Regions from separate parts of the Homo sapiens genome. Here region 2 is linked to region 1. Evidence: fine-mapped expression QTL. Tissue or cell type: whole blood. Region 1 holds a variant in brackets; the other region holds the start of a gene. All regions are shown on one strand. Distances are from middle to middle.

What was found. PIP is the estimated chance that this variant, and not a neighbour inherited with it, causes the effect.
Region 2: it holds the start of JAG1, and the variant in region 1 is fine-mapped to the expression of JAG1 in whole blood (INTERVAL, PIP above 0.99). The same link has a PIP of 0.9 or more in blood mononuclear cells.

The regions. Positions count from the first base shown.
Region 1 is chr20:10,473,456-10,476,138 of GRCh38, reverse strand. All of the region lies in intron 2 of SLX4IP (SLX4 interacting protein), which reads right to left. Among named protein-coding and RNA genes, the nearest start is that of SLX4IP, 39 kb to the right of the region's middle. The variant T/C (reference allele first, on the strand shown) is at 1,529.
Region 2 is chr20:10,672,437-10,675,119 of GRCh38, reverse strand. It overlaps JAG1 (jagged canonical Notch ligand 1), which reads left to right and starts at 1,121. Exons shown (of 26, transcript NM_000214.3): 1 at 1,121-1,670; 2 at 2,114-2,419. The coding sequence starts at 1,590. RefSeq lists a silencer at 499-898.

The sequences.
Region 1 (2,683 bases):
GGGATGTGAAAAACCTTAAAACACTTCAAAATGCACACCGATAATAAAACACATTGCCAAGTTGTAAGTAAAGCAGTTAATTATGACCATCGTCATCCCCAGGAACCAAGAGAAGCTTCTCAAGGGTCAGATTATTCCAGCTACCTCTTGGATGCCCCCGAGGCCTCTCTACAAACTGTAAGTGCTCATTACTATGTTCTGTAAAAAGGCCTGTCTATGAGACTGCCAAAAAGAAACTTTCCAGCAAAGTCTCTAAATTGTAAAGTACTATCATGTAACTTCTGGGGGAATCTATGCCCCTCTTTCTGACAGCTGTCATGCTCAAGGGTGGGCATGGGCAGCCATGTATTTACCATGTGACACTGCCCCGTGCCACAATCGATGAAGCAAAAGTGGACATCTGCCCAAATTCACCTCCAGAAGTTTGCTATTGGGGCAGAAAGTGCAGCAGTTTTGTAGGATATGTCACTTGGGAGGTGAGGAGCCACTATCTTCTGCAACATGAACAAAGGAGCAGAGAGAGGCCAGCAGAGGGAGAATAACAAGGAAGATGCAAAGACCAGAATCCCACTTCTCAAAGAGAGGCCCACAGTGAAGCTGCCTCAGGGCCATGGGCAACCTGAAGCTACCTCCAGGCCCTCACCAGCTCAATAGCACACTGATGCCAGTATGCTGAGACAGTCACACTCCCTTATCATAAACTGCCCATTTCAAGTTCTAGTAGTTTGCGTGGGTGTTACTTCCTTCCAAAGAGCCTTGACTAGCAGTTACGCTAGTCTAAGCTAGTTATTATGACTCTAAATAAGACACTAAGTTCCCTTGGGCAACTTCTGAGATCCTCACTTTCCACTCCCCAGGGATTCTCATCTCATCACTGAAGGAGCTGAACAAGGATGTTTTTCAATGTTAAATTCTATGCATGACCTCAATACACCAAACTGATGGTGGCCGAGCTGTCGGCTGGAGCAGAGACAGGGATCTGGCTCTGGCCCTCCACAGAATGCAGTGCTTCCAGGGAACTCTGCTGAAAGCCCTGACTTGGATGCTCTCTAGGGATCCTGGCTTAGCCTTGGCAGATAATATTCCCAATGAAGAGCAGCTTTACTTGAGCGGCTCCACGTGCTTGCCCAAAGAAGGCAACAGACAGAGGATAAGGAGTGTTACTCAAGTCTGAGGACCAGGAAGCTGGAGAAGATGAGACTCTCTCACCACCCATGGCCTGAACCCACGGCTCCCTGAGGAAAAGCAAATGCTTCCAGTCCTGGATGGTGGCGCCAGAGGGAGGCCGAGGTAAGCTATGATACAGAGATCAGTGGCCAAAGGGCAGCATCATCCCAGGGAACACCCCCAACACCTCTGATTCAGCAGCCCCGATTAGATGGAATAAACTGCTTTTCACTTCGGAAGTTTGGCTGCAACATAGTGGTAAGGGAGGGAAAAAAAGGAAGTGAACAAGGCGGCCGGCGGAAGTGGAGAGGCTCCAGCCCCAGCCCAGGCCCCCAAGGCCCATCTGGCCTTCCTTCTGGGG[T/C]TAACCATGATCCTTATTTGACCACAAATGGGAGCGGGGGAAAAAAGAAAAAGGAAAAAACTCCACAGAGATGTAAATGGAGGACATCAATACCTAAAGTAAAGAAGGGAAGGGGGTCTAGGAAAGAATGGCTCTTAAAAGCAAACTCCAGAGTTCAGACATTGTATGGGGCCTCATTAAATGGCATTAATGACTCCCACGAAGTTAGGGCTTAGAATATATCTGCATAGCTGTGTTATGTGATCTCTCAATATTATTTTGGACTGAAGAATATCTTGTTCAGAACGATGGGCTTTTGTAAGAAGCTCCTTCTTACTTGACAACTTGAAATATTGTTAGACCAGCACACCATTCATAAGCTTTTAAAAAGAACTAATCAGAACTCAGGCAGCTTTGGCCAGGAATGGTGGCTCATGCCTGTAAACCCAGCACTTTGGGAGGCCAAGGAGGATGGATCACCTCAGGTCAGGAGTTCAAGACCAGCCTGAGGCCGAGCACCGTGGCTCACGCCTGTAATCCCAGCACTTTGGAATGCTGAGGCAGGTGGGTCATCTGAGGTCAGGAGTTTGAGACCAGTCTGGCCAACATGGTGAAATCCCATCTCTACTAAAAATACAAAAATTAGCCAGGCATGGTGGCGTGTGTCTGTAATCCCAGCTACTTGGAAGGCTGAAGCAGGAGAATCGCCTGAACCCATGAGGCGGAGGTTGCAGTGAGCCAAGATCACGCCACCACACTCTAGCCTGGGCGACAGAGCAAGACTCCTTTCAAAAAAAAAAAGAAGACCAACCAGCCGGGCCAACATGGTGAAACCCCGTCTCTACTAAACATTTTTTAAAAATTAGCCAGGCGTGGTGGCAGGCGCCTGTAATCCCAGCTACTTGGGAGGCTGAGGCAGGAGAATTGCTTGAACCTGGGAGGTGAAGGTTGCAGTGAGCCGTGATTACACCACTGCATTCCAGCCTGGGTGACACAGTGAGACTCTGTCTCAAAAAAAAAAAAAAGAAACAGAACTCTGGCAGTTTTAAGAAGAATTGCAGAATAAGCTGCTTCAAGACACACTCTGGCAGAAAAATATTAACCACAATGATTATCAATATTTATGACAATGAAGATGAATATTACTAATAATGCCTAACACTTACTAAAATGGTT
Region 2 (2,683 bases), 200 kb before region 1:
GCAAGCCCGTGGGAGAGGGGTTAGCAGAGGCTACGGCCAGCCCACGGGCTTTCTTCGACCTTGATTATGACCAGGAGTGTAGCTGTTAATTGCGAGGCTTGCCTCAAGGTGGAAAACAGTATCGGTTTCCACTGCCACCCCAGAGAAGGCAAGTTCCGCGGCTGGCGGTGCTGGGGACACGGTCCCTCCCAGGCCCATCTCTTGCCACCCAGAGAGCTGCTCGGAGGCCGCCTACAGGTGCAATCCCGGCACTGCGGCCGGGGCGTCGGGCCGGGGAGGGCGTCCAAGCCCACCAGCATCTCCGCCGGCCCTTCCCAAAGCCTGAACAGGGCCCCGGCGTGCCCGCCGCCTTCTACCCCCGGTTTCCCCGCGCCTCTGCCCCGGCGCGGTTTGGATAGGAAGCTGGGAGCCCTCCCAGGCTCCGCAGACTCGGATTTGGGAGGGGGTGGGACGCGGCCGAGGCTTCCCCTCGAATCTGCGGCAAGCCTGGCTCCAGGAAAGTTTTTCAAAGTTCCCAGCAGCGTCTGCCCAGGTCGCCTCCGCGGGGCGAGCAGACGGCGGCAAGCGCGCCAGCCTCGCCGCCGCCTCTGCCGCCAGCAGAGCGCTCTGGGCGGCTCGCTCGCGGGAAGCGGGCCGAACTCCCGGCGGGCAGGCAGGCCCTCCTCCCGGGGCGAAAGCCGCAGCTGACGCAGGCGGTTCGGAAGGCGGAAGCTGCCCCGCTCCGACCGCTCAGTCAGCGCCGCGGCGCCTACACCTGGGGCCCCGACGCGCGGGCAAAGGCGCACGGCCCGGGGCGCCCGAGGGGGCGGTCCCCGCTGGGGGCCTCCAGGCGTCCCTGAGCAACGATCCCTTCCAAGTACCTCCCCGCACTCTCCCTTCCCTCCTGGCCCGAAGCTCCCGAGGGCGGGGGTTGGTGTGGGGCCCTGGTTCTTCTACGCCGCCCTGAGCATCCCGCTGCCCCCAACCCCTTCCAAGTTCCTCCTCGCACTACCCCCTCCCCAGCAACGTGAAGGGGAGGGGCGTGCCCAGGGTGAGCACGCCCTCTCATGAATATTAATAAGCGCGCATGCGCCCTGCCCGGCGTGCTGGGTAGAGGTGGCCAGCCCCGGCCGCTGCTGCCAGACGGGCTCTCCGGGTCCTTCTCCGAGAGCCGGGCGGGCACGCGTCATTGTGTTACCTGCGGCCGGCCCGCGAGCTAGGCTGGTTTTTTTTTTTCTCCCCTCCCTCCCCCCTTTTTCCATGCAGCTGATCTAAAAGGGAATAAAAGGCTGCGCATAATCATAATAATAAAAGAAGGGGAGCGCGAGAGAAGGAAAGAAAGCCGGGAGGTGGAAGAGGAGGGGGAGCGTCTCAAAGAAGCGATCAGAATAATAAAAGGAGGCCGGGCTCTTTGCCTTCTGGAACGGGCCGCTCTTGAAAGGGCTTTTGAAAAGTGGTGTTGTTTTCCAGTCGTGCATGCTCCAATCGGCGGAGTATATTAGAGCCGGGACGCGGCGGCCGCAGGGGCAGCGGCGACGGCAGCACCGGCGGCAGCACCAGCGCGAACAGCAGCGGCGGCGTCCCGAGTGCCCGCGGCGCGCGGCGCAGCGATGCGTTCCCCACGGACGCGCGGCCGGTCCGGGCGCCCCCTAAGCCTCCTGCTCGCCCTGCTCTGTGCCCTGCGAGCCAAGGTAGGAGCCCTTCTCCGGGCCTCCCTCCCAGCCGTCCTCTCCCTCCCCTCGCGGCGCCCTGGGCGGTTGAGCCCCGCGAGCAGGCTCGGCAGCCCTCGAGCGCCCGACTCCTCGCCCCTGCGCCCGAGCGGCTGCACCTGGGCTGAGCGCGCCAACTCCCCCACGGGAGCCCCTGCCTCCTGAGGGTGACCCCTCCAGGCCGGACAGGGGCGCGTTCGCTCCGCTGTTGCCCCCCGGGAAGTCGTCGGATTTCTTCCGCACTCGTGCATTTTTTTTTTTTTTTGCCCCGGAATCATGTTGAGTCCTTGAACGTAGTTTCGCAAAATTATTTTCACTCGGCGAGGAGGGCTCGTCGGGGCGGGGAGTGGGAGGGAGTCGCCACCTCTATACTCGAAGAAAACAGCTTTCTCCCGCGCTGACCTACCTCCTTCCCTCGCCGGCAGGTGTGTGGGGCCTCGGGTCAGTTCGAGTTGGAGATCCTGTCCATGCAGAACGTGAACGGGGAGCTGCAGAACGGGAACTGCTGCGGCGGCGCCCGGAACCCGGGAGACCGCAAGTGCACCCGCGACGAGTGTGACACATACTTCAAAGTGTGCCTCAAGGAGTATCAGTCCCGCGTCACGGCCGGGGGGCCCTGCAGCTTCGGCTCAGGGTCCACGCCTGTCATCGGGGGCAACACCTTCAACCTCAAGGCCAGCCGCGGCAACGACCGCAACCGCATCGTGCTGCCTTTCAGTTTCGCCTGGCCGGTGAGTGACTACTCGGGAAGGAGGCCGGGCGGAGCCTCACACCCGCGCCTGGCCGAGCCCTGTTATCCCTTGCGAGAGGGATTTAAAGGGCTTTGGCTTGAAACTAGGCGCTAACTGGGGAAATCTCTAGGGGTGGCGGGTGAGGGAGCCGGGACACTATAGTTAGATCTCGGCTGGGGTAGTCGAGGTGGGTCCCATTCCTGCTGCTATTTGCTTAGTGCACAAAAGTGGGGATCCCAGAGGGTTTATGGGACCAGGCTCCTA